Regions from separate parts of the Homo sapiens genome. Here region 2 is linked to region 1. Evidence: fine-mapped expression QTL. A gene starts in region 1. The other region holds a variant in brackets. All regions are shown on one strand. Distances are from middle to middle. Region 1 holds the start of AKAP7 (A-kinase anchoring protein 7). Region 2 overlaps LOC102723445 (a long non-coding RNA gene).

What was found. PIP is the estimated chance that this variant, and not a neighbour inherited with it, causes the effect.
Region 2: its variant is fine-mapped to the expression of AKAP7 in skin (TwinsUK, PIP 0.90).

The regions. Positions count from the first base shown.
Region 1 is chr6:131,125,706-131,138,878 of GRCh38, reverse strand. AKAP7 (A-kinase anchoring protein 7) reads right to left here and starts at 3,412. Exons shown (of 8, transcript NM_016377.4): 1 at 3,097-3,412. The coding sequence starts at 3,115. It overlaps LOC102723445 (a long non-coding RNA gene), which reads left to right and starts at 8,518. Exons shown (of 4, transcript XR_428022.3): 1 at 8,518-8,864; 2 at 8,966-9,142. RefSeq lists enhancers at 2,785-2,844, 3,281-3,781 and silencers at 3,105-3,214, 3,365-3,454.
Region 2 is chr6:131,106,230-131,123,569 of GRCh38, reverse strand. The region is part of intron 2 of LOC102723445 (a long non-coding RNA gene); the gene reads left to right. Among named protein-coding and RNA genes, the nearest start is that of AKAP7, 21 kb to the left of the region's middle. The variant TG/G (reference allele first, on the strand shown) is at 9,318.

The sequences.
Region 1 (13,173 bases):
TATGTCTGTTACTACTACTAACAACAGCTAACATTTAAGTGCATGCTTGAAGCCAGGCACAGCTGGAAGCACTGGGAGGAACTCATTTAATCCACACAACCACACTATGGAGAGGTACTATTATGATGCTCATTTTACAAACTAACTGATTAAATAAGTACTTGCTCAAGGGTAAAACTAGTGGGTCTTGGGGCTGGAACTGGAATCCAGTCACTCTATTACCATTATGCCCTTTCTGGCACCACACACTGCCACCTTATTATACACTGACTATAGCAATGTAAACGGAGGCAATCCTTTCAGAAAGCAATCTGGCAATAGACCAGAAGCCACAGAAATATTCTTCCGATGTTCTTCTTACTGCTCTCTGGTTATCTATCATCCATGCTCAAAGATTCACCACAGCTTTATTTAAACAAAAAAGGAAAAGTGGAACAAAACTTAAATGCCTAATAACAAGGAAATGGTACAATAGCCAAGATTTGGAAGCAATTTAAGTGTTGGATAACTAAGGTTATCCAATGGAAAAAGGAAATATGGTACATATATACAATGGAGTACTATTCAGCCATACAAAAGAATAAGATCCTGTCATTTGCAACATGGATGGAACTGGAGATCCTTATGTTAAGTGAAATAAGCCAGGCATAGAAAAACAAACTTTCTATGTTCTCACTTATTTGTGGGAACTAAAATTAAAACATTTGAACTCATGGAGATAGAGAATAGAAGAATGGTTACCAGAGGCTGGGGAGGGTGGTGGAACGGGTGGGGGGAACATGGATGGTGACTGGGTACAATGAAATAGAAACAATGAAAAAAATAGGGAAACAGTTAAACGAAGCATGCTCGCGACAATGACAACTACGAACAATGACTATGAAGAATGCAATGACAGAAAAAAGCTAACAACAAATGCCAAGTTTTTAGAAAGGAGATATAAAATTGCATATGCTCTATGATTTACAATTATGTGGCCAAAGGCTAAACAGTATAAACTGCTTGTAAATGCTGACAACTATATTGAATATATTCATGTTTCTCATTTCTGCTATTCAAACGTTTCAAAATTGAATATTACCTAAGAAAAACAATACATACATTTTAAGTATATTATAAAACCATACCTTTAAATATATGCAAATATTCAAATACAGGTGAAGCAAATGCCTTCATCAAAAACAGGCCAACAGGGTGGGCCGGGTGAGGTGGCTCACACCTGTAATCCCAGCACTTTGGGAGGCCGAGGCAGGTAGATCACGAAGTCAGGAGATAGAGACCATCCTCACTAACACGGTGAAACCCCATCTCTACTAAAAATACAAAAAATTAGCCGGGCGTGGTGGCACACACCTATAGTCCCAGCTACTCGGGAGGCTGAGGCAGGGGAATCGCTTGAAGCTGGGAGGCGGAGGTTGCAGTGAGCCGAGATTGTGCCACTGCACTCCAGCCTGGGCGACAGAGCGAGACTCTTGCCTCTAAAAAAAAAAAAAAGAGAGAGAAAAGGGTATGGAGAGTTCTCCCACTGTCACACAAAATGCAGGTTTCCTAACTGGATAATAAATGACTACTCAATTTTGTGAAGTAAGTCTCTCATCACTCTACTAGGTAAATAGTAAATTTATCCCAGCTGAGCAAGTTGGCTCACACGTGTAATCCCAGCACTCAGAGAAGGACTGCTTGAGCCCAGGAGTTCAAGCCTTGGTGACATGGCAAGACCCCGTCTCTACAAAAAAAAAAATACAAAAATTAGTCAGGCATGTTGGCACAGACCTGTAGTCCCCGCTACTTGGGGAGGCTGAAACAGGAGGTTGGCATGATCCCAGCCGATCTAGGCTGCAGTGAGCCATGATCGCGCCAGTGCACTTCCACCTGAGCCAACAGAGGAAGACCCTGTCTCTAAATACATATATACATATATACATACATACATAAGTACATACATAAATAAGTTTATTCCTAAGAACAACTGGAAAGGGCTAAGGGCATCCATTCTAGTCCTGGCTTAGCTACTAAAAATAGTATTAGCATCTTACACGTTAGTAAATGTTGACAGCTGCGTAGAAATCAACAAGTTACTTGACCTCCAGGCTTTCCTTTCCTCCTCATAAAAAGGGAACAAAAGTAAAATCCAAATTATTAGGGAGAAATGGACAAAACAAGTTAATAGTGTCCGAAAATGGATGAAAGGAGGAAGTAACCTCCACAAACATCTTAAACTTTATGAGTAAGGAAAATATACAGATATGCTAACAGGATCCTGAATTGCAAAGCCACGGCACTTAAACAAGGAACTGGAGTATGGCTCTTTTCTCCTTAACAATTTCCATTCCCATGCATTTCCTAAATGCAAAAACTCACTGTCATCATTCACTTAACAATTGTCAACATATTCACACGATTAACTGCTATTTATATAGTACACTTTAACGTTTTTATGCTTTTTATACTCTTCTATGAGTTTATCCTATGAAACTCTTGCAGAGGAGCACCTTTTCTCTAATTGGTTTGCGGACCCTTTTACCGAAAGTCCACCCCTAACTCGCTCTATCACAAAGTTCAGTTCACAACAAACGCTGACCTAAACTGGAAATTCATTCCGGGCGCTAGTGTAGACTTGGCGCCAGTTTTAAAAGCGGTCATGTCCAAACCTGGCAGAAAATCCTAAATGAGACAGTATGGTGGTTCGGGTGCTTAATATTTGTGATATAAGATAAAATCGAAATTTTACTAGGTTTTGTTTACATTTACCCACATCAACACCGTCGGAAGGAATGTGTACTGGCATGAACTTTGTGCAAAGGGTCACAGGATGAGAAAGGGAGAAAGAAAAGTGAAACTCGGGGATGGGCTCATACCCCCGCCTCCTGTCGGACCCACAATGCGTGCATTAAAACGCTTCGCTACAGGCAGCACTGATGTACACCCCGGTTGCACCGGGCTTCTCGGTGCTACCCTGAGTCCTTTTGGGAAGGAGGGAGACTCGGAGAAGGGCCGGCGCGGGTCAGGCCCTCCCAAAGTTCGAGCGCAGAGCAGGCCCAGGCCCCCGCGGCTCCTGTCGCCCCCGCCCCGGCCCGCTGGACAGCCCGGTCTCACCCGCTTCGGGGCGCTCCATGGTCGCGGCGCATGCGGGCGGCGCGTCTGGGCTGGCGGCAGCGGCGGTGGCGGGCCGCGTCCCGGGGCTGGAGGCGAGGCCGAGGCGGAGGCCAGGGCGGGGCTCGGGGCCTGAGGGCGGTGCGCTGGGCCGGCGCGGGGTCCAGCGACAGGCTGCGGGGGCCCGGGCGGCGGAGGCCAGGCCTGCGGAAGCGCGGAGCTTCCCAAGCCGCAGCCCCCGCGGCAGCGGCAGCAGCGGCGGCGGCAGCCGCAGCAGCCGCAGCACCCGCATGCCAGGCCGGACGCCGGAACAAGCCAGAAGGGGCCGACCCGAGTCGCCGGTGGTACCCGGATTCGGGCGAGAGGCGCGGACGCGCTCGGGCAGGGCGGGGGAAACTAGGGCCGGCGACTGCGGCGTCACGGCAGCCCAGGTCGTCTCGACTCTGCAATGCGACGCTGGGTCTTCGCCTGCCTGCCGAGCCCCGCGGCCTCCGACGGCCTTTGGCAGCCCTCATTTATTTCCCGTGGCGCAGCCTTGCCCCTCCCACGCTTTCAAGGGCGAGATTGGGACTAGGATGAAAGAATTCTCTGGCCTGGTGTCTTTTGAGAATCCATGTGCTTAGTTTTGCAATCAGGGTTCTGATTGCAGAATATTTGGGAAGAGCGAAATGTACAAGAACGAGACCTTGTACTTCTGTATAATGAGATACTTTATTTACCTTACTTTTAAAAACTGCAAATTGTGACAAAGTCTCTAATTTTTAACAATGATGTTATGTTTAGACATTAAGAGGAAACCAGTTGCTGGTTCTTGTAGTATAAGGTACTGCAGTGAGTAAATTGGGAGAAAAAGAAATTTACTTAGTTTAAAAAAATAAAAACCTTTCACTTGAAACGGAATGCTATTGGGATTGGTTTTAGTGCGAAGAAACCAGGGGTTAAGAACATTAGGTGCATCCGTCCACAAATTAGCGCCTTTCGTGAATAATAACACTTCGCTTATGTTGAATGCATCGTAGAATAGGGATGGAAGAAAAGAAGACCCCTACACAGCCACAACAGCTGGCGTAAAGGCTGCACACTAGAAGTCGGCAAACTAGTTACTCTGATTTTCAAATAATTCTAACACGTTGAGTTTCTGATGCCCATTTATGGGCTGGTAGGAAAGTACAACCAGTTCCCCTAATATTTATTTAATGCTTGAGCTCTGTGCTGAGGATGTGCAGGTAAGACAGGTCTTTTACTTATGGAGCTGATCATATAATAGCAGAGAAAGAAACATAAGTAACTGCGGAAATAAAAGCTGCAAAAATGTGGTCCACATTCATAGTGAAGAGGATGAGAATATGCCACCCCAAATATGCCACTTCAGCATAAGGATTATTCTTGAGCTTAAAACAGTTCAGAAACTAAAGACTCAGGAACAACTTTGACCTCCCCCTTTCTGCCTAAAAGCAGGACATAAATTTCCCTTCGTAAAGGTGACATAAATTTTTATTTTTAAAGCTTTACCAGGCCGGGCCCAGTGGCTCACGCTTGTAACCCCAACACTTTGGGAGGTCAAGGCGAGTGGATCACTTGAGTCCAGGAGTTTGAAACCAGCCTGGGCAACATAGCAAAACCCTGTCTCTACCAAAAATACAAAAATTAACCAGACGTGGTGACCCATGCCTGTAATCCCAGCTACTCCAGAGGCTGAGGTGGGAGGATCGCTGGAGCCCAGGAGGTGGAGGTTGCAGTGAGCTGAGATGATGCCATTGCACTCCAGTGTGGACAACAGAGCCAGATCCTGTCTCAAACAAACAAACAAACAACAAAGCTTTACCACTCACCCATACCAGAAAGAGGAGAATGAGTCTTACCTGCATAACAAACCCATACATTTTCTAGTAACCTTCCCATACTGCAAAAAGGCTAAGCCCCCTTTTCCTTTGTCTAGCCTCTCCACACTTTATCATCGTTAAAATGGTATAGAAGCCCCCAGTTCTAACTGCCTCTTCGGGCTTTTAGTTCTTTCCTGTGAAGCATCTATGTGCATGTGTAATAATCCTTTTCTCGTCTTAATCTGTCTTTTGTCAATTTAATTTACACAGTCCAACCTAGTGAACTAAATGGGCAGGAGAAAGATTTTTCTTCCCCTGTGGTGTGTACCAAGAGATATATGGAAGTTTCATTCTCTTACCTAAGCAGAGGTAACAGCCCAAATGCCACATATTTTTCACCACCAGTATTATGAATACAGAGTCTTATCAACACCTACCATGTGGAGGAACATTTTAATTACCCAAGTCTGAAAAAGGAATTTTTCACAGAGCTTCTTTTAGAAATGACAGGGAGAAAGGGAAGTACAAGGTGAACCTTGGACATCTTCTTGTGCCAAAAAGCAAAGACAAATGGGGACTATCAAAAACACAAGGACTAGCGAGAAACAGCTTTCTTTGAGCAAATGGGAGATAATCTGACATCATAAAAGGATAACACCTGTAATTATTGTAACATACTGAATACAAAATCTATATACCCATAATAATACTCAAAAAATGAGGAAGAAAAACTAGTAGGCCACCATTAAAGGTGACAAGTACGCAATTCCTTAGTCTCCTTACTCTAAAAATTAAAGGGAAAGAAAGATTTACCATGACTTTTTAGAAGTAGTAGTATGGGAAAGCTGCTTTGCACAGAAGAATTTTCAATAATAAATATAGGAGACATAAAATAATTGGAAAATTACCATTTTGCCACCACAACTGATAACTGATTGATGCAAAGATCATCAATATATTCTAAAACCATTACATGAAAGGTTAATGTGGACCGAAATATTTATAAGTTGCCAAAATACTACCCCCCACAAAATACTTGGTAATTGCTCAGGAGAGAACATATTTTTACTCCATGTAAATAAACCTGGTTGTCACCACCTTTATCGTGATTAAACTCAGCATCATTAATGGTGGACAATCTGTGAAAGCTCCTGTGAAAGCTATATCATCACTGCAAGGTAGTCTTGCCATAAATATTTCACCTGAAGCTGCTAAGGCTTTAAATATAATTTTCAGATTTCCAGAAATACAGGAGATAGAGGTACAAGTAAAATAACATGATGAGGAAAGAATCAGACCAATCCAGAATGTGTGACATTCTAGAAAATAATTGGCTCAGGCTTTTCAAAATCTCGGTGGGGTGTTGTGGTCCAGGAACAGTGTGGTAGCTTAAAACTAAACCCTTCCAATCCAGTTGTTTTGGCACTGTGCCAGTGTATATTGTCCTCTGGGGAGAAAAGGGCTGTGTACTAATAGTCAGGGAGGAATGGGCAGAACATACGGAGGGAGAGGGAAGTGTGGACCAGAGGATCCATGCCCTCATGAGTCGTGCTGCAGGTGAACCTTCGTTAAAGCATTGGGCAACCTGGTTCTTTTTTGCTTTCATAAAACAAATTAATACCTATGAATTCATCTTTTTTTTTTTTTTCTGAGACGGAATCTCGCTCTGTCGCCCAGGCTGGAGTGCGGTGGCGCAATCTCGGCTCACTGCAAGCTCCGCCTCCCGGGTTCCCGCCATTCTCCCTGCTCTACTTCCCGAGTAGATGGGACCACAGGCGCCCGCCACCACGCCCGGCTAATTTTTTGTATTTTTTAGTAGAGACGGGGTTTCACTATGTTAGCCAAGATGGTCTCGATCTCCTGACCTCATGATCCGCCCGCCTCGGCCTCCCAAAGTGCTGGGATTACAGTTGTGACCCACCGCGCCTGGCCGAATTTATCTATTTAATTGATTTTCAATATTAACTGGTTCTGTCAATAACCAAACATCCTATAGGGATTTTTAAGATTTTTAAGCCTCTATGTCAGTTTGCCGATTATCTCTAACCTTAACTCATTCTCAGCACCATTTAGCAGTTATTAAATAGAGTTTGTTTCCCACATCAGTACATTGAACTGTCCTACTGCTGTCACAGGGGACCGCAGCTATGGTCAAGATCAGTAGGAACTGTCAGTGACCTCCTTTGGGGAACAGTCCCTGACCCCACCCTTCTACTTGGGTTAGGTACTCCACCTGAGGGCTTTAATACTCCTTGTGCCCGCTCTGACCATCCCTTTTGCCACATTTTTCTGTTTCATACATTAGACTTTACGCCACTAGAAGGCAAAGACTATGTTTTAAAGTCTTCGTATTCCCAAATGCATAGAGATTTCTCAATGAATAGACATTCAATGAATGAATAAAACTTTTATAAGCATCCAGATCCATTAAGTACTCAGATTTGTCAAAAAATAAAGCAGCACTCCCAGATAAATTTCAAAAAAAAAAAAAAAAAGAAAGAAAGAGAAACAATATCACGGGTAATCTTAATGTCCTACAGTTTTGTTGGCAAACAGCCTGTTGCGTGGCAAGAGTGGCGCCATCTTGAAGCAAAACCTCCATGAAGAGCAATGTCTGGCTCCTGCATGCAAAGGTGTTCTGCAGCAAGGTTTTTAAACCAAGCATCTAGCATAGACAACCCCTCATAAAGATGCTTATCTGACCTCCCCAGTGGTCATAAGTTTGAGATGGGACCAACTGCCCAAGTCTTAGAATACTTTCTGGAGGGTGGATGCGAGGATGTGTAATCTCATGGCCTCTGGAGAGTCACTTTGGTTCATAAGACCCTGTTAAATATTTCTTTCTGAAAAACTGGATTTGTCAGTCACTTTCTTCAGCCTCTCAGCTCCCACAACCCTTCAGGATAGGTTTGCATATACCTGCTCACGCCTGAACAAGCTTCTCCAGCTTAAGGCTAAAAATTAGCCAACATTAACTTTAACATCTAAATGTTTTTTCTTTTTTAAAAATTTTTTAATTTCTATTTTTTTCTTTTTTTCCCTGCAAAGCCAACTGCAAGTATAACATTAACATCTAAATCTTAATAGCTAAATGAACCTACCAACTCATGCCAAGACGCCAGTCCTTTGTGAAATTCCTCCAAAATACTTTTGGGTTTCCAAGTGGTGTCTGGCAAAACTAATCTAATGAATCATTCTAAGCTACCACCTGTTCCCAGCCCTTGCTTCACTGAGTTCCATTTGTCCAATCTTGACTCCGGAAAGTCCTCTGCCCTCGCGCACATCAGCTGCCTGCTAATTCACCTGGCCACAGTGGATTCTCCCAGTCTTCATGGTGACATCTCTTGCAAATGAAAAGAACAAGGTCAGCTGGGCACAGTGGCTCACGCTTGTAATCCCAGCACTTTGGAAGGCCGAAGCGGGTGGACAACCTGAGGTCAGGAGTTTGATACCAGCCTGACCAACATGGCAAAACCCTGTCTCTACTAACAATACAAAATTAGCCAGGCGTGGCGGCACATGCCTGTAATTCCAGCTACTCAGGAGGCTGGAGCAGAGAATCGCTCGAACTCAGGAGGCAGAGGTTGCAGAGGTGCAGTGAGCCAAGATTGTGCCTGGGCAACAAGAGTGAAACTCCATCTCAAAAAAAGAGAAAAGAACAACTTCTCCCTACACATTACACTCTGCTAAGAGTAGAGCAGGTTGAGCTGCATCACAGAAGATTTTTGGGACCTATAAGAATTACAGAATTCCTTGAGATACAGCAAGTTTCTTTACAGACACTGCCCCATTTCCCCCAGAGGGCAAGGTACAATGATTGCTGAAATAATTGGATGGGAAGTGTTCAGGTTCAGATTGCCACACTGTTCCTGAAACATGACCCATTTCTGACTTTCAGGAACTACTACTAAATTGACTCATTCACCCTGCCCGACTCCTTTCTTTATGGTGAGTTCTCTCTTCAGGTCCCTCATTTCTCTTCTGTGATACGGTCCTGACCTAGTGAATTTCTACCAAAACAATTGACTCTGTTTTAATTCTTGCCCTAGGATGTTCCTTGGTCCCCATAGAAACTAAAGTTGCAAATGGTTACAAAAAAGGATGACATCATGCAGTTCTACAAGACACGGCCAAATATCAGTACAAAGCTAACTGGGACCCTTGGTGACCCAAGGTAACTCGGGGTGACATTTCATTTTGCTGGAAGAAGAATATGTGTTTAACATGTAAGCTTTTCAATTAATGTTTGAGTATAATATTTTTAAGAAAGCACTACACCTATTTAATAATAGACTTATTTCAGTAGTCAGACACAGTTGAAGGGCCTGATAATATTTAATAACAGAATGCAACATTTTAAATTATTTTAAATATTTCTAACTACAAATCTAAAATTTTATGTAAGTAACATGTTGTTTTATGATATTTTTAAATTCAGAAAAACTTATGGAATAAAATGTAAAATTATCTATAATTGTATCTTTTTAGACATAGATATACATACACATATAAACACATACTCCTGCAGCATATATTTTATAAAAATGAAATCATGTCACATTATGGCATCATAAGCTACTTTTGTCTTTTACAAGATATTGTGACTAATTTCTCATGTCATTAAGCATTCTTCTATATTTTATATTATTCTTTCAATCATGCATTTTTTTTTTTTTTTGACAGAGTCTTGCTCTGTCACCCAGGCTAGAGTGCAGTGGCATGATCTTGGCTCACTGCAACTTCCGCCTCTCGGGTTCAAGCAATTCTCCTGCCTCAGCCTCCCTGGTAGCTGGGACTACAGTCACCTGACACCACACCTGGCTAATTTTTGTATTTTTAGTAGAGACCAAATTTCACCATGTTGGCTAGGCTGGTCCCGAACTCCTGACCTCAAGTGATCCACCCACCTCGGCCTCCCAAAGTGCTGGGATTACAGGCGTGAGCCACCGCACCCAGCTCAATCATGCATATTATATCCTTATATAAATATATCATAATGTATTTGACCAATTGCCAATGTCATTGTTCAACCTCATTTAAATTCATCTCAGTTTTTCTGTGTTAAAAATAATTCTATGATAAGTACATTTTTCTGTAATTAGTTTAAATTTTTTAATTATTTCCTTTTTTTTTTTTTTTTGAGATGGAGTTTCACTCTTTTTGCCCAGGTTGGAGTGCAATGGCATGATCTCAGCTCACTGCAACCTCCATCTCCTGGGTTCAAATGAGTCTCCTGCCTCAGCTTCCTGAGTAGCTGGGATTACAGGCACACGCCACCACGCCTGGCTAATTTTGTATTCTTAGTAGAGATGGGGTTTCGCCATGTTAGCCAGGCTGATCTCAAACTTCTGACCTCAGGGGATCCGCCTGCCTTGGCCTCCCAAAGCTCTGGGATTTACAGATGTGAGCCACCACACCCAGCCTTAAATTATTTATTTAAAATAAATTCCCAGAAGGAGGTGTGATAGGTAATAGATTCTAAATTATTACAAGCCTTTTGAAATGTGTTGCCAAATTATCCACCAAAAACTTCATGCAAATCTATATGCTTATAAGCAGTTCATGAAAGTTTATTATCCATCCCACTAACCCTCATTTTCTATTTACAATGTTCAAATGGCTGTTATTTTACCTCTTATTTCTTTTATTATTAATAAATCTGCATATTATTTCATGTGTTTCGTAACCACTTGCACACCTCTCTTTATAAAAAGCTTCTGCTTATTTTTCTTCTAAATCGTTTACCTTTTTCTACTACTTTATAAAATCCATTATTTTATTATATTTTTAACTTTTATTTTAGGTTCAGGGGTACATGTGCAGGTTTTTATATAGGTAAACGCATGTCACGGGAGCTTGGTGTACATATAATTTTGCCACCTTGATAGGAGGCTAGTTACTTTTTCCGATCCTCTCCCTGCGTCCACCCTCCACACTCAAATAGTCCCCAGTGTCTGTTGTTTCCTTCTTTGTGTCCACTTGTTCTCATTATTTAGCTCCCACTTACAAGTGAGAACATGCAGTATTTGGTTTTCTGTTCCTGTGTTAGTTTGCTAAGGATAATGGCCTCCAGCTCCATCCATATTCCTGCAAAGGACATGATTTCATTCTTTATTATGGTTGCATAGTATTCCATGGTGTATAGGTACTATATTTTCTTTATGCAGTCTACTGTTGATGGGCATTTAGGGTGATTCTATGTCTTTGCTATTGTGAATAGTGCTGCAATGAATATATATGTGTGCATGTCTTTCTGGTAGAATGAAAATCGATTACTTTAAATACTTTGTCATATATACTGAAAACATTTCCCCTAGTTTGTTATTTGTATTTTAATTCGTATATAGAAGTTTATAATGTGCAGAATTTGAAAATTTGTATGTAGTCTTATGTATTAATTTTCCTTAGTGGTTTTATTTCTTTGCTCTAATGATTTAAATGTTTTCCTTTCATTCCCTTTCATTTAAATGTTTCCTTTCCTCTATGGATTGTTTATAGTGGCTTCTACTTCTTTACTTCTGAACTTATTTGGTTGTATCTTATGAGATAGGGACTTTTTCTCTAAAGAAATCAAATGTCCAAGTGCCATCATGACATACAACCTATGGTCAAGGACTTCAAGGTCTGGGACCAGATGCAGTGGCTTAGGCATGTAATCCCAGCACTTTGGGAGGCCAAGGTGGGCAGATGACTTGAGGTCAGGAGTTAGAGACCAGCCTGGCCAACATCTCTACTAAAAATACAAAAAAATTAACCGGTCATGGTAGCATATGCCTGTAATCCCAGCTACTCAGGAGGCTAAGGCAGGAAAATCGCTTGCATCCAGGAGGCAGAGGTTACAGTGAGCCGAGATCGCGCCACTGCACTCCAGCCTGGGAGACAGAGCCAGACTCTGTCTCAAAAAAACAAAAAAAAAACAAAGCAAAATGAAACAAAAGAACTTCCAGGTCTATTTTCCCCACAAATCTACCTGCCCTGTCTCTTTTTCTCAGGTCATACTTTTCATCAGTCAATCTCACAAACTAAACTATGCTCATGTACTAAGTCCCAGTGAATTATTTTGGCAAAAATAATGGCAGGAAAACACTCTGTACACCTGATATGCAGGCAGCCACTTAGCCATTAAATTACTCCGATTTCTCTTTGTTCAAACCTCAGTTCTGGTCCTTGTAACCACACCATGAGCAGGGAAGGCTAATGGAGCAGCAGAGGGAGACAAGACGCATGAATATGGAGTTCCCTAGGATTCAGGTAGTGTGGCCCATTCACGCCACGAGCATTTAATTCTAAGTATATTAATGTATGCTGCTTCTTTCCCCTGCTTCTCCATGAGGGCAGGGATTTTATAGTCTCCATCCAAAGTCTAGTATGCAGGAGTTTCTAAATAAATGTTTATTGAGTTAGTTATTTAATGAACTTTCTAGAGATTGAACCTAATCTTAAAGAGTCAACTCTAATGGAAGCCAAGGATGGAGATTTTGGAGGTTTGAAGGCCTTTTGGCTGTTGTTTTTGCCTGCTCATAAATCTAATAATACCTGTGGACATTTACTTCTAGCATCATAAACTTGTTACATTTGTGGATATCGACTCAACATTTGCATCGCTAATTCATTCCTCAAGCATTACCCATGAAATGAAGGAATATTGTAATTAGTAATTCTTGGTACCCTGCCTATTTTCAATAAAAGGAAAAAGAAAAAAGTAAGCAAGAAAGAAAAGACAGCCAGCATATTCAATTACAGTATTGTCACATGTAAATAATCTGAGCAACCAAAAATAAGCCATAAATGTGTTTACCAAGATAAATTATTATAAATGATCTCAAGCCTCAAATTTGTCCAGAAATATAACTTATTTATTAAAGTGACTACTTATTTAATAACACAATGCCAATTGGAGAGAGGACACCTTCATGGCAGACAGAACATTTTTCTAAAATCATGTCATGTAGAAAATTATCCTAATGCCACATAGCCTCCAAGTCCACTGCCAGACAAGCTATCACAGAGATCATGGAAATGAAAGACTTCAAGACCAAATTAAACTGTTCACATCAACAGTTTATTAAATCAACTTAAAACACATAGCGAGAAAAGGGGGAAACAAGCAGCATACATTAATATACTTAGGATTGGATGTTCGTGGCATGAATGGGCCACACTACCTGAATCCTGAGGAACTCCATATTCATCCATCTTGTCTCCCTCTGCTGCTTCATTAGCCTTCCCTGCTGGTGGTGTGGTTACAAGGACCAGA
Region 2 (17,340 bases), 17 kb after region 1:
CCAGCCTAACCAACATGGTGAAACCCCATCTCTACTAAAAACTCCACCAGGCATGGTGGCACGCACCTGTAGTCCTGGCTGCTTGAGAGGCTGAGGCAGGAGAATTGCTTGAACCCAGGAAGTAGAGGTTGTAGTGAGCTGAGATCGCACCACTATACACCAGCCTGGGTGATGAAGTGAGATTCTGTCAAAAAAAAAACCAAAAAAACCAAAACTGAATAATGGGGGTGAGAGCTATAGAGTCTGTTCAAATGAAGGCAGTGATCTCACACAGGATGGAAGCAAGTTAAGGAAAGATGGGTCCTGGTAAGTATTTGGATGGGTCGTGATTAAGGGAACTACTTTCTAAAGATGTCAATTTGCTTGATGGAAATAAGTGAAGTCATTTGCTGGGAGGAGAGGAAGACACTGAGGAAGGACTCTTGGCAATTTGGAAGTTATAGGTGTACAAGTGATCATTGAAACTATGGATGTGGATGAGGTCACCGAGAGAGGGTATATAAAGTTAGAAAATTAGAGGGCTGCAGACGGAAGACCTTCACTATCTTTGCGATTAGAATCTGAATTTTTTTTTTTTACATTTTGTCAGCTGCCTGAATTATTACATACTTAATGCATTTCTTCTTTTCTGGCCAAGAATAAGAAATAAACACTGTTGAGGACATTTACATCCAGAACATTGATTCTTTTTCTTCAGTTAAAATAAAAGAGATCATTTACTTATTACGAGGTATACTCTAGCTTGTATTATTTACTCAGAAGATAATGATGTCTTATATTGTGGATTTTGAGATAATCTCTATTTTTATACACTGAAGTAGTTAGTGTTCCTGACCACATTTTGAGCAAATGCCAGATTGGCAGATTAGGCTTAACAGCTCTAATTAGGCTTCCTGAATTTGATTAGTGCTAGGGATTAGTTTCTTCTTTGATAGTTTATTTCACAAGATTTCTTAGTTTGAAACTGTGTTTTGCTGACTATTTTTGGTATCATATACATCATATAAACCATCATTATACATTCCAATAGACCATTCTTCATTGATGATTTGTTGTTGTTATTCCCTGGTAAGATTTTCTGAATACTAAAAGGAAAATATTAAGAGCGATATCAAATTTCACTTTCTGGGTCATCAGGGCTCTATATTACTATTTGTTGGTTTCATTATCTTCCTAACGTGCCGGAAATTATTGATGCAGTTTATGTTCAAACTTCTCATTGTTCATTCTAAAATGTGTGTTACAATTGTTTTTTCAGGAAGATATTAACATAGATTATAGTAATAGGATATTAATATCTGGGCTAGCAGATTTTACATCTTATTCAACTTAGTCATCTCATTGCTTATTTGGCATAAGTATTCCTCGTTTTTTAGTTGTGCAATTGATATTTAAAACAGGCATCATACAAGCCTTAACTGGCAATGCTAATCTTATTTGCATTCCAATTAGAGTATAATTGACAATTACACTATGAGGTTTTCTTTGAATATTGTAAGAATTAGAAGATACAAGAAGTGGAAAAAGTAGTAAAACTTTAAGAGTACTAGAGAGAAATAGAATCAGAGTGGGAGGAAATTTGAGTCTATTTTCCCTTACACAGTAAAATATTTCCTTACAGATGGTCATCTATTTGAATACATGGTCCAACTAAAAGCTCTTTGTCTAAATATTGTGTGGTTTCAAACGGCAAATATCTTCATTGTCTATTGATTGATCTAGTAATATAGTGAAAGACAAAATAATTATAGCCAACCAAACTGCAAAAATTCCTTTACTATAAAGTATTAGCTACAAGGCAGGCATGGTGGCTCATGCCTGTAATCCTAGCACTTTGAGGGGCAAAGGCAAGTGGATCCCTTGAGCCCAGGGGTTCAAGACCAGCCTGGGCAACATGACAAATCCCATCTCTACAAAAAGTGCAAAAATTAGCCAGGCGTGGTGGTGTGCACCTGTAGTCCCAGCTACTTAGGAGGCCGAGGTGGGAGAATCTCCTGAGCCCAGGGAGGTGGAGGCTGCAGTGAACTATGGTTGAGCCACGGCACTCCAGCCCAAGTGACAGAGTAAGACTCTATTTCAAAAAAAAAAAAAAGAAAGAAAATATTAATTACCCAAGGTCCTCTGATTTTTTTCATTCTTTTATCACTTCAGAGTAACAGTAAATTTTATAGACATAATTTATATATATATAAACCATATATAATACTATGCCACTTTTAATTAATATCTTTCAAATATCTCTCTCAAATAGGTATTTTATATATATAATAATTTGTATTATATTATAATGCCTTATTGTGTTAATATGCAATCATTTGTTTAACCAGTCCCCAAATCTTGAGCATTTCCAGTAGAATCCACTTACAAATATCCTTGGATTTTTTTCTCTTTCATTTGTATCATTTTCTTGATCCATATACCAAAAGTAAATTTATCAAATTAAGAGGAATGTTCCATTTTATGGGGTTTTGGGGGTTTTTTGTTTGTTTATTTTTGTTGGTTTTTTTTTTGCGTAGGTAAAATATGGTAGTCATATGATGACAATCTATACAGCAATTACAGAGGATGGACTGATCTACATTAACTAACATGCACAGATCTCAAAAACATCATTAAGCAAAGCAAACAAATTGCTAAACAATTCAATATACCATTTGCATTAAACACACTATTTCCAATGAGTTCATATATGTATGTAAAAATATTAAAGTCTAAATGGAAGTATAACAAACATAACAGCCATTAAGAGGGGAAGGGACAGGAATGGGGAGTGGTTGGTAGCTGAATGACAGTATCTTTATAACAACCTAGTTTCTCAAAAGGATAATGAATTCATGCATTGCTTGGGTAATTAGAATGGATTTAACTTTTAAAACAAAAAAGCTGGCTGGGCACGGTGGCTCATGCCTATAATCCCAGCACTTTGGGAGGCCAAGGTGGGTGGATCATGAGGTCCAGAGATCGAGACCATCCTGGCCAACATGGTGAAAACCCGTCTCTACTAAAAATACAAAAATTTGCCTGGCATGGTGGCACATGCCTGTAATCCCAGCTACTCAGGAGGCTGAGGCAGGAGAATTGTTGAACCCAGGAGGTGGAGGTTGTAGTGAACCGAGATCACGCCACTGCTCTCCAGCCTGGCGACAGAGTGAGACTCTGTCTCAAAAAAAAAAAAAGCAAAAAAGCCATATACAGATTTGAATAAAAGAGTGATGGTGTTCATGAATGAGTGAAGGCTGAGCTCATCGCACCAGGCTTTGCTGCCTCTGCATGACCCTTGTAGCTAATGAGGTTAGTTCCTAAAAGGAATCTCACACGTGTTAGGCTGGGATGTGGCCCAGCATACCTCTCCCCTATTTCCTCACAACCCAGATTGGTGCTCAGCCACCCGGTTACCATACATGATTGAAGCTACAGGCTTCCTCAGGCGCTCCACTTACCAAGTAGACCTCATCAGGGCCCTGAAACTTTTATTTTTTTACTTTATTTTATTTTATTGTATTTTTTAAGAATAATAAGTAGCATAAAAAGCATCTGCTTCCCCAAAGCCCTTACTACACTGGGTTTATTATTTACTTGATGTTTTCTAAATCATCAGCAGTGCTGACATTTTTCTATTGGTCAAATATTTATCAAATGCCTAATAAATTCCCAAAAACTCACTGTGTCTTGTAAATAGGCATCATTTGTTCAAGGGGCAGCATGGCGAAGTGGTTAAGGGTATCACTTTGAAAGCCGGATTTCTATCTGTGAAAAGCTTTAGAGGCAGGCCTCCCATACTATTACAGTTTCCTGTAAAATTAAGTATGAGCTCTTCAGCTGTGGATCTGAGGCCTGCCACAATTCATTTCTACACACTTTTTTTTTCTCATTGATAATTATTCTCTAACATCTTTCAAATGGATCAAATTAATAATTTTTTGTTCCCTAACTATCTTTGAAAACGATGTCCAACAACTATATTGTAGTGTATGATACTCACTTCACCTAAAATGCCTTCTGTATCACCTGAAGGAAAAGTTTCAGTCTTTCCTTTTATGACCATCTCATATATCCCCTTCATCTGATCTTTCCAACCAAATAAGGATACTTTCTACTCTGAAAACTTCCTCTGCTTTATTTTTACCTCTTTTGGGGTGATTAAAATATTTTAGCTTTCATTATAAATAATTCTCTTACGAGATAGTTAACACTTTAAGGGAGTCTAACACTTTGCTTAGCACATAGGACAGATTTGATTTTTTTTCCAAAATAAATGATGAATTGACTGATCCATGTTCACACACCGAGGCCTCATTTCATCTGTGCTAAAAATGTGAAGTAGCAAATCCAGGAAATTTCCAGATAATTAAAAAAATTAATTGATTTTCTAGCAATTTCCTGACCAAAGCCTTGAAGAAACTACACTTCTTTTTTTTTTTCTTTTTTCTTTTTTTTTTTTTTGAGACACAGTCTGGCTCTGTTGCCCAGGCTGGAGTGCAGTGGCACAATTTTGGCTCACTGCAACCTTTGCCTCCTGGGTTCAAGGGATTCTCGTGTCTCGGCCTCCAGAGTAGCTGGGACTACAAGTGTGTGCACCACACCTAGCTAATTTTTTATAGTTTTAGTAGAGACAGAGTTTTGCCATGTTGGCCAGGCTGGTCTCGAACTCCTGATCTCAGGTGATCCACCCGTCTCGGCCTCCCAAAGTGCTGGGATTACAGGTGTAAGCCACCATTCCCAGCCTTCTCTTTTTTCTTAATCAATATTTGCCTCATTTTCTCTGTGGAAATGTGACTTTCATAGATCCCAGGGTTGAATCTCAAAGTGTTTGCCCCCAAGACCTTGATGTAATCGGACAAAAGGAAGAAACGCATCATTGGCTTCATTCCACTGTCTGGAGGGCTTAGCACTTTATATCCCTCAACCCTGGCCTCTGGTGTACTCTCCACAATTACTGGGCTCTTGTTTGTTGACCCCTCTCCAATGTATTTGACTTATTTTGGATTGATTGCGTCCCCCCTGCAACCCCTTCATTCCATTTTTTCTCCTCTTCTAATTTGGAAGTGATATTCTCTATGTTGATTGTTTTAAAGGAGTTATCCTAAATAATTAACAGGCATACTTAAAAAAATCTAAAGTTAATGTCTTTACCTTCTCCCCAAATAACACAAGGACCTTCAAAAATTTTAACTTCGACTACTGCCCTGAATTATATGCTGTTATAATCTCTCTTCTCTCTGACAATTGTTAAAAATCATCTCTTTATCTTTGGAGCTTTATAGTTTTAGCAATCTAAGCATGAATTTATTTTACTTATTCTGCTTGAAAACATTGGGCTTCCTGATTCTGAAAACTGGTATCTCTCAAAAGTTTAGAAAAAGCACCCATTTGCTATTTTATTATTGTCTATTTCCCCATAATCTTTTTCTTTCCTTCTTCCAGAACTCTAATTATGTTACGAAGTCTGACTTTGTCCTCAATTCCCTTTAGACTCTCTATACAATAGTTCCCCCTTCTCTGTGGTTTCACTTTCCATGTTCAGTTACTCACAGAACAGTACAATATATCTTAATATTTTGAAAGAGGCGAGGTGTGATGGCTCACACCTGTAATCCCAGCACTTTGGGAGGTTGAGGCAGGCGCATCACTTGAGGTAAGGAGTTCAAGACCAGCCTGGCCAACATAGTGAAATCTTTTCTCTACCAAAAACACAAAAATTAGCTGGGTGTGGTGGCATATGCCTATAATCCCAGCTACTTGGGAGGCTGAGGCATGAGAATCACTTGAACCCTAGAGGCAGAAGTTGCAGTGAGCCCAGATTGTGCCACTGCACTCCAGCCTGGGCAACAGAGTGAGATTCTGTCTCAAAAACCAAGAAAAAAAAGATATTTTGAAAGAGAGGGAAAGACCACATTCACATAATTTTTATTATAGTATATTGTTACAATTGTTCTGTTTTATTTTTAGTTATTGGTGTTAATCTCTTACTGTGCCCAATTTATAAATTAAACTTTATCATAGGTACATATGTATAGGAAAAAACAGTCTTATATATGTAAGATTTAGTACTATTTGCAGTTTCAGGCTTCCACTGGGGGGTCTTAGAACATATTCCCCTCAGATAAAGGGGGACTACTGTATTTTCCAACTCTTTGTTTCTCTGAGCGTAATTTTAAACAAGCCCATTAAATGTTTCCTCCAGTTCACTAATCCTTTCTTCAGCTTTGTCTAATATGCTATTTCTCCAGCTTTTGAATTTTGAACTTCAGGTATTATATTTTTCATTCCTAGGCCATCCATTTGGTTCTTTTTCAAATCTACTTGAATTTTTTCTAGTCTATTGTTCCTGTTTGCAGGTTTTTACTTCTTTAAACATACTAACCACATTATTTTCTAGTCTATATTTGATCATTCTAATATCTGAAATCTTTGCATATTTTATTATAATAACCTTTCTGGCTTTCTTTCTGGTTCATACTTACATTACCTTTATTTCTTATATGTTTTGTGTTTTTTTTTTTTCATTGTGAGCTTGTATTCGATCTTTATCTGAGGAAATTCTTTGAAGCCTGGTTTGAAGTTGCATTCCTCCAAAAAGAATATCGTTTTATTTGTGTCACCAGGGGGCACTATTAACCTGGAACAACTTAAATTCCTTACTTGGCGTTTCATACTACATTGGTAGGGTTGCCAAATAGAATACAGGGCATCCAGTTATGTTTACATTTCAAATAAACAAGAAATTATTTTTTGTGCAATATTTGGGACATACTTATACTAAAAAGTATTCATTGTTTATCTGAATTCAAGTTTAACTACGGATGCTCTATTTTTATTTGCTAAATTTTGCAGCGCTATGCATCACTAGCTTGAATCTGGCTTTAGACCCACATAAGCACTTGGTTGAGTTTATGAATTCTCAGAGAATTTTTTTTCCTCTTCTCCCAGGGCAAAAGTTGAGAGAGGCAAGTTTTCAATGTCTTCTTCTTTAGATAGACATATTTCTTGCTCACTTGTATACTGAGAGTGTTGCCATTAGAAACTTAGCTCTATGCAGGGATCACCTATTAGATTCCTCACCATAGGCCGATCTGTTATCCTCTGCATACCATTTCTCAAAATGTAAATTCAAGGTCCCTTAGGTTGACCCTTAGGGTGAAAACGTGCCTCAGAAATCATTTACCTTTCAGGAGTCTTTTCTTTTCTTTTTTTCTTTGTTGTTGTTTCCATAGATTCCTTACAGTTTTGCCTGCTATATAAAAGCATTTAACATATTATTTATATAGTATATTCAGTACTTGGAGGTTTTTTCAGGCGGCCAGTAGGAGAGAAGGTATTGGGAGTGGGGCCATTCAGAGTATCTCAAATGCTATTCCATCAGAACTAGATATCCTTCAATCCATTCCTGCTGAATCTGCCTTCTGGTATTCTTGGTGTCTCCTTGAAGTTACAGTGTTCCACAACAGTACGTGGGTCTATTCCAGAGTAGTTAGTATCGTGTGTCTTTGCTTTCATACTCTGCAAAAACTGGTGATCTCTCCAGTGACAGAGTACAAGACCTTGCTCTAAGCTCAATCTAATGACTTGGGCATGGTACCACATTAATTTCCTACCAGTGCTCTTTCTCTGAGGCTAGAATCTAGTTCCCTGTGACCTAAATTCTTGGGGAGTTCTACAGTGTATTAATCTAATGCTGCCACCACCACTACCTCAATACCTCAGCATGTCTTCTGAGTTAGTCCTCAGGAATCCCATTCAAACTGGTGTGTCTTAACTACAGTTTCTGGAAACACACCTAAGATTCCACATGGGATTAGCCTTAGATTAGTTTTTTAGTTTCTTTTAGGAAGATCAGTTTTCAGATCAGGATTAGATTCCACTGGGCAACTCTACCTTCATGGGTGAGTGACTAGCAGCTTCTTCCTCGTCCCTATCAGTCCCAGTGTCAGAGGTTTAGTTTGTCTTTCTTCCAGGCCCACCCAGCACAATACACCTTCAGTGGTGTGCTAGAGCTGGCTTATACCAGATTGCAAGAGTCAACTTTTAAACTTTCAGGAATCTTGAGTGCTGGTTATTAAGTCCAGCTATTATTAAAAATTAAATTAGGGAGACATAATCAAATAAATTATATTTAAAACAATGGTAACTATAAAACTCTTAGAAGAAAACATAGGAGTTAATCTCTCTGCTTTGGATTAGGCAATGATTTTTTAAATACGACATGACATCAAAAGTGCAAACCACAAAAGAAAAATTAAATAGGCCGGGCGCAATGGCTCATGCCTATAATCCCAGCACTTTGGGAGGCTGAGGTGGGCAGATTACTTCAGGTCGGGAGTTCGAGACCAGCCTGACCAACATGGAGAAACCCCACCTCTACTAAAAATACAAAAATTAGCTCGGTATGGTGGCGCATGCCTGTAATCCCAGCTACTCAGGAGGCTGAAGCAGGAGAATCGCCTGAACCCAGGAGGTGGAGATTGCAGTGAGCCGAGATTGCGCCATTGCACTCCAGCCTAGGCAACAAAAGCAAAACTCCATCTCAAAAAAATATAACTAAAACTAAAATAAATACATAAATCAAAATTTAAAAGTTTCATGCTTCAAAGGACACTATCAAGAAAGTGAAAGTACAGCCGATATAATGGGAGAAAATATTTGCAAATCATACAAGGGCCTTCAAAAAGTTCATGGAAAATGCATATTATGAAAACATTATGCATGGATTTCAAGTTGTTTTTGCACCAAAATAAACTCATACTAACTTGTTATAAAATATCTGAAGAGGATCTACATTGGGACACTAAGAAGGCTAAGACATCAGTTTGAAAAGAGCTTCTATCAGAGCAATATGACTTCTGCTAAAATTGAAGCAAGAATAAACATCAAATTTATGGTGAAATTTTGGTGAGAGAATGGTGAAATCATTAATGATTTACAAAAAGTTAACGAGAACAATTTCCCAAAGAAATCAGCAGTTTACAAATGGATAACTTGGTTTAAGAAGGGATGAGACAATTTTAAAGAAAAAGCCTACAGTGGGAGACCATCACATCAATTTTCAAGGAAAAAAATTAATCTTGCTCTTGCCCTATCTGAAGAGGATTGACAAATAACAGCAGAAACAATATCAATACCATAGGCATCTCAATTGGTTCAGCTTACATGCTCCTGATTGAAAAATTAAAGTTGAGGGCTCAGTGGCTCATGCCTATAATCAAAGTGCTTTGGAAGCCCGAGTGGAAGCATTGTTTGAGGCCAGGAGCTTGAGACCAACTTGGGCAACATGGTGAGAACTCATTGCTACAAAAACAATTTTTTTTTTTTTTTTTTTT[TG/G]AGACGGAGCCTCCCTCTGTCACCCAGGCTGGAGTGCAGTGCGCAATCTTGGCTCACTGCAATCTCTGCCTCCTGGGTTCAAGCGATTCTCCTGCCTCAGCCCCCTGAGTAGCTGGGATTACATGTGCCTGCCACCACACCTGGCTATTTTTTTTGTTTTTTGTGTTTTTAGGAGAGATGGGGTTTCACCATATTGTCCAGGCTGGTCTCGAACCCCTGACCTCAAGTGATCCACCCGTCTCAGCCTCCCAAAGTGCTGGGATTACAGGCGTAAGCCACCACACCCGGACAATCTCCTACTGGCTTTTATTAGTTGTACGTCTTTATGCTGTTTTTACCCAGTCTAAATTTTACAGATAAAACTTGTCTGAGTTCAGTGGCTTACACCTATAATCCCAGCACTTTAGGAGGCCAAGATGGGCGGATCACTTGAGGTCAGGAGTTCAAGACCAGCCTGGCCAACATGGTGAAACCCCGTCTCTACTAAAAATACAAAAAAAAATTTAGCTGGGGGTGGTGTCAGCGACCTGTAATCCCAGCTACTCAGGAGGCTGAGGCAGGAGAATTCCTTGAACCTGGGAGGCAGAGGTTGCAGTGAGCCCAGATCACACCACTGCACTCTAGCCTGAGCAACAGAGTGAGACTCCGTCTCAAAAAAAAAAAATAATAAAATTAGCTAGGTGTTGTAGCACACACCTATAGTCCCAGCTACTCTGGAGGCTGAGGTAAGAGGATTACTGGAGCCCAGGAGGTTGAGATTACAGAGAGCTAAGATTGTACCACTGCACTCCAGCCTGGGTAACAGCGTGAGACCCTGTCTCTATAACTAAACAAAGCAAAACAAAAAAGCCTTTAAAAGGCATCCATTTTTCTTCAGTTAATAATGTAAGAAAAACTACATTGACATAGTTAAATTCTCAGGAATCTCAATTATTTAGAGATGGACTAAATAAGTGGCTGGTGTTTTGGCTTCCAAAAGTGTCTTGACTTTGATGGAGCTGATGTTGAGAAATAATGTTTATATTTATCATTTTTATCTTTTAATTCCATTTTTCCACGAACTTTTTATTTTTATTTTTTTTGAGACGGAGTCTTGCTTTGTCACCCAAGCTGGAGTGCAGTGGCGCGATCTCAGCTCACTGCAAGCTCCACCTCCCGGGTTCACACCATTCTGCCTCAGCCTCCCGAGTAGCTGGGACTACAGGCACTCACCACCATGCCCGGCAAATTTTTGTATTTTTAGTAGAGACGGAGTTTCACCATGTTAGCCAAGATGGTCTCGATCTCCTGACCTTGTGATCTGCCCGCCTCGGCCTCCGAAAGTGCTGGGATTACAGGCGTGAGCCACTGTGCCCGGCTCCACGAACTTTTTGAAGTCCCCTTTTATATCTGATAGAAACGTATATCCAGGATGTATATAAAAACCTCCTATAATTCAATAATAATACAAAATCCGATTAAAAAACAGATAAAGGATTTTGGGTACAGTGGCTCATGCTTGTAGTCCCAACATTTTGGGAGGCTGAGGCAGGCAGATAACCTGACATCAGAAGTTCGAGACCAGCCTGCATGGTGAAACCCCGTCTCTACTAAAAATACAAAAATTAGCTCAGCATGATGACATGCACTTGTAGTCCCAGGTACTCAGGGGGTTGAGGCAGGAGAATCACTTGAACACCGAGTGGCAGGCACTAGGTTGGCTATAATTTTAAAAGACAGACAATAAAAAATGCTGGCAAGGGTGTGGGGAAATTAGAAATGTCCAGTATAGCAAATCCACAGGGACAGAAAGTAGATAGGTGTTTGCCTAGGGCTGGGAGAGGGGTGTGGCTGCTAAGGGTTATGGGGTTTTATCTTTGGAATGATGAAAATGTTCTGAAATTAGATTGTGGTGATGGCTGCAAAACTCTATATAAATATTCTAAAAACTATTGAACTGTATACTTTAAATGGATGATCTGTGTGGTGTATGAATTGTATCTCCATAAGCTGTTAATTTAAAAAATGTAATAAATATGCAAACATATCACTTTCTAATTATTTTACAACATTTTACTATTGTCTAAACTCCTGAGGTTATTTACCGAAAGATGATGCCCAAGTGGCCCCAGGACATAGAATCAAATTGTGTATGATATTAAAACAACAAGAATTGTTTATCTCAACTAATATCTTGTTTATATCTTTGTAACAGACAGCCAGATGGTAGTGAGTGCTAATACTGTGTACTAATCCTTTAGGAGGACTAGTTTGCTTGAGGTTTAGACACAAACAGGAATGATCTGTGCCATTATAAGAAATATAATGATGTCATGAAGGGCTTTATGATAAATAAAATGATTAGAATATGGTATTAAAAATATGTAGCCATTTATCCTATTGCATTTCATCAAGAAATATTAAATATTATAAAAAATGCAAAAATGAATTTTCTCATTCTTGCAAGCAGTCAAGTCTCAGCCGGAAAAATGGAAGTCAATTTAAATATTTAAAGATAAAAGGCTTTAATTTACAGAGAATTAGGTATAGGTACTGTACTTATAAATTTTTGCAAGGGCATAAGGAATGAAAGTCGGAGGAGCTGCCACCAGCTTTCACATTCACAGTCCAAAGAATCTGAAACTTCTTGCTTTCATGCAGAAGTCAGGAGGATGTAAGAGACTGAAATCAATAGTCATGATTGCCCTGAAGTCCTGGGGTGAACGACACAAGGGAATATAGAAGTTGCTGCAAAAAGTCACAACTTCGGGCGGGGTACAATGGCTCACATCTGTAATCCCAGCAATTTGGGAGGCTTGAGGTGGTACGATTGCTTGAGGTTAGGAGGTCGAGTCCACAGTGAGCTATGGTGGTCCCACTGCACTCCAGTCTGGGTGATGGAGTGAGACCCTGTCCCCCCCCCAAAAAAAATAGTTACATCTTCTTAAGTCCACATGTCAACCAACACAATTGAAGAAAGAGGAATGGATTCTGTCTTCTGCCTTGTAATTTAAGCACAAGTACACCTCATGGGCAGAATCTAAACTGTATTTGGTTTACAGGGACTATGAAAAGACAGTTCTCATTCATCAGCCCCTGACATGAAGGGGTGAGTATCAAAGGAAATAGAAATAGTGCTGAGTACCAACAAATCATATATGACTTATTTCCCTCAAGGGTAGTCAGGTAATTTTTTGAGACTGTATATAGCATGAGTTTGGGGTTGTTCTTATTGATAGGGGATGCAAGTTGCAGAAATTTAGTTTTTCCCTGAGATAACATCTTGACATGTCTCGAACCATTAGATTCCTAGACAGTTTACCAAGTTGGCAGGCCCTGAAGTTTGTTGGGAGATTATTTTCCACCTTCTATCACACATATAAATATATATGTGTGAAATATATATATATATAAGAATGTGAATTCCTCTCACTTGGTCCAGTCATCATTATGTCACTAATGTAGTGGGCCAGTGTGAAGCCCTACAGGATGACAGGACTATCAAAGTTCCTAAGGGCTAGATTAAGACTGAGAGCTAGAGACTTGGCATAGCTCTGAGACAGGACTATTGTGTACTGCTTACACTTCTGTGTAAATGTAAGGGGCTCCTGTGATCTTTACTTATTGGTATAGAATGGGAGTCAGAAGACTAGAGTCTGCAGACTGGACATTTGTTTTGTAAGTAAAGTTTCTTTGGAACACAGCCATGCCCATTCATTTACATATTGTTCGTGGCTGCTTTCACCCTACCATAGCATATTGAGTAGTTGGGACAAAAACCTTTACAGACCAGCCAAAATATTGCCCTCAAACTCAAGATAAACAGAAATAAAACAAAGTCTTAAATTTAAATCTAAAACAAAACCATGGCCCCTTTATGAAAAACATGGGCTAAAATGTATTAATAATGGTTAAAACCAAGTGCTTTTTTTTTTGAGAGATTTGCAATAATTAATACCTATTTAAGTGGGTTTTCCCCCTAGGTCTTTATATTCTAGTATAAAACAGCCAGAGCTGGGCTGTTCTCTTAACCTCTGATCAAATAAGCCTGTTTAGAAAAATCTATGTGTTTTGCTTATATCATTGGGCAAAGTAATTTGTAATATATGATTGACATAATAAATCATCACTTCTAATAAAGCACATTTTTAGAAAAATAAAATTTCTGTGCACCTGTTTTAAAAAGCTCCAGTGCACTTTCCAGCTCAGTCAGAATCCTCATTTGGAATTAACTGGGGGTCCCTGGTTCCTGCTGAAGTTACATATTGACCTGAATGAAACAGGCTGGCCTCCAGCATAGACTCCAAGCTCTGTGTTTATTGAGTCAAGAGTAAGGATCTTCTCTCTCTTAAATCTAGTGGTGGGCAGGGAGAGGACAGGGGCCAAAGATAATTGACTGACCTTTTAATTTATATTGCCATTTGCAGACACTTTTCTTGTATTTTTGAATTCTTATTTTGTCACAATAATTTGAAATTATATAATGCTTCCTAGGTTAGTGAGCATTTTCAGAAACATCATTTGATATCCATATCAACTCAGAAAGTATTTTCTTCTCACATGTCATAGATGAAGTTCAGAAATAGTCAGTAAATCATCCAGGTTCACAGAAAACAAGACCAAAAGTTACTAATACTCACCAAGCATCCATTAGATGGCAGGCACCATCTCAAGCCAGAACTCATATCTTGACTTTTAGACTCTGTATTAGTCCGTTCTCACACTGCTATAAAAATAATATCTGAGACTGGGTAATTTATGAAGAAAGAATTTTCATTGACTCACAGTTCCCCATGGCTGGAGAAGCCTCAGGAAACTTATGATCATGGCAGAAGGGGAAGCAGTCACCTTCTTCAGAAGGCAGCAGGAGAGTGAGTGCAGAAAAAACTGTCACCTTTAAAACCATCAGATCTCGTGATAACTCCTTCACTATCTTGAGAACAGCATGGGGGAAACTGCCCCCGTGATCCAAACACCTCCCACCAGGTACACCTCCCTCCACATGTAGGGATTACCATGCGAGATGAGATTTGAGTGGGGACACAGAGCCAAACCACATCAGACCCCAAGTCTAATATGGTCTGAATGTTTGTGTCTCCCAAAAATTCATGTGTTGAAACCTGATGTCCAATGTGATAGTATTAAGAGTTGGTGTCTTTGAGAGGTGATTAGGTGCCATCTATGAGAAAGCAGGCTCTCACCAGACACCCACTGAATCTGCCAGCACCTTGATCTTGGACTCCCTACCTCTAGACTGTGAGAAAAAAAAAAACCAACTGTTATTTACAGTACCCAGTTATGTACTCAGTTATAAATAGGTCAGTTTATTGTATTTAGTTATAGCAGCCTAAATGGATTAAACAAAGTTTAATATTCTTACTATCACAATGTATTAATTCCCATTCTAGTGAGTACTGGGGATAGTAGTGATGGTGGTAACTTTTAAACATACAAAAATATGTCAAACACTACCCCTCAAACTGAGAATAAGATGACTAGGAGAAAGGAGACATAACTATCAAACTTTAAGGCAAATGCTGTGTATAAAGTTATTGAATGAATGGTTTTAAAAGTATTCTTATACTACTGCATGAAGAATTAAGCTGAAGAGCAAGAAGAACTTTTTTCTTTCTTTCTTTCTTTCTTTCTTTCTTTCTTTCTTTCTTTTTTCTTTCTTTCTTTCTTTCTTTCTTTCTTTTGAGATGGGGTCTCGCTCTGATATGGTTTGGCTGTGTCCCCACTGAAATCTCAATTCGAGTTGTATCTCCCAGAATTCCGACACGTTGTAGGAGGGACTTAGTGGGAGGTAATTGAATCATGGGGGCTGATTTTTCCTGTGCTATTCTTGTGATAGTGAATAAGTCTCATGAGATCTGATGGGCTTATCAGGGGTTTCTGCTTTTGCTTCTTCCTCATTTTTCTCTTGTTGCCAATGTAAGAAGTGCCTTTCACCTCTCACCGTGATTCTGAGGCCTCCCCAGTCATGTGGAACTGTAAGTCCAATTAGACCTCTTTCTGTTCCCAGTTTCAGGTATGTCTTTATCAGCAGCATGAAAACAAACTAATACACACTGTCACCCAGGCTGGACTGCAGTGGTGCAAACATGACTCACTGCAGCCTACACCTCATGGGTTCTAGCGATTCTCCTGCCTCAGCCTCCCAAGTAGCTGGGACTGCAGGCACACATCACCAAGCCCAGCAAATGTTTGCATTTTTTGTAGAGACGAGGTTACGCCATGTTGCCCAGGCTGGTTTTGAACTCCTGAGCTCAGGCAATCTACCTGCCTCAGCCTCCCAAAGTGCTGGGATTATAGGTGTGAGCCACGGTGTCCAGCCTTCAGAAATTTTTAAGAGTTTAGTTGTGATATTCTGAAATATCTAAGCCCAGGAAGTTGTGTCTCTGGATAATTATTAAGTTTTTGTTTGTTTGTTTTGTTTTGTTTTGTTTTTTGAGATGGAGTCTCACTCTGTCACCCAGGCTGGAGTGCAGTGTCATGATCTCGGCTCACTGCAACCTCCACCTCCTGGGGTTCAAGCTATTCTCCTGCCTCAGCCTCCCAAGTAGCTGGGACTACAGGTGCACACCACCACGCCCAGCTAATTTTTGTATTTTTAGTAGAACGGGGGCTTTACCATGTTGGCCAGGCTAGTCTTGAACCCCTGACCTCAGATGATCCACCCACCTCAGCCTCCCAAAGTGCTGGGATTACAGGCATGAGCCACTGCACCTGGCCTAATTATTACTATTAAAGAGCAAACTTATCTTTTGGGAATGATTCCAGCGTAGTCCTGCTTAAAGTCAGCAGCTGCATGAAATGTTTCCCTTCCAGTTCTGTTATTCTATGATACTCCCTCTAGGAAGAGGGTGTTTTTCCCTCCACTTTATCTCCTATACAGTCATTGTGAAAGACTTTGTAATCTCAGATAAGAATATGCTTTTTGAAGTATGTGTCATCAAGCTCTGTGCAAATGTGAGGCAGAAACAAGTATGCTTTTCCTTGGCTTCTTGCTGAGGTCACACACTACCAGATTTGCCAGAGTTATTCACTCATTAATTTATCTGATAAACATTTATTTTACATACACTATGTACTTGATTTGTAGATTATAAAACAACTTTAGTAAAACCATTTCCTATCTAATAGATTTTGAGTGGCCTTGTCAAAACCAATTCTAGTGACACATATGAATTATTATCTTCATTAGAAAGCAGTTTCAAGTGCCTGGAACCCTAAGGCTAGGTAATACATGAAGGAAACTAAACAAGCATCCTTTTGTCATTCAGGGCAGGGGTCAGCAAACTTTTCTGTGAAGGGCCAGATTGTGAACATTTTAGGATTTTAGGGCCATATGGTCTTTGTTGCAATGACTTAAATCTCCCTTGCAGTGCAAAAGCAACCATACAAAGTATGTGAATGAATGAACATGGCCATGTTCCCATGAAACTTTACTGATGGGCTTAAATTTGAATTTCACATAGTTTTCATGTAACACAAAATATTACTTTTTTGACATTCTAGAAACCACTTAAAATGTGAAAACCATTCTCATCTTGCAAATCATACAAAAACAAGGCAGTGGATCATCATTTGCTAATCCCTGATCTAAGGAAAAAAGAAAATATAGTTGTAGATGAACAGAAAGGACATGCAGGCAATATAATAAAATGTCAAAATAAATATAAAACTAAAAGGTAAATATTTAAAATATGTTAATGTCAAGAGTCTGAAAGATGATAAAGTGTTATGTGGGTTTCATTTCTGGATGGAGCAGATTTGGCTCTCCTTAGATGAGTAATTTCAGCCATCGGTAGAGAAGGACTCCAAATGACTGCATTCTAAAAGATAAAAAATAAGGACTTATTTTCAAATGTGTCACAGCGCTTAGCCTTATGTTGTCTGGAAGTTGAAGTGCTTCCCACACAACCCTCTGTACTTAGCTACTATTTTTGTTTTTTAAATAACTGACCTGAATTTCCAAAACTATGTGTTACTTGCAGAAAGTATGGTAGACAAAGGAGAAATGGTATATTACAAGAAACC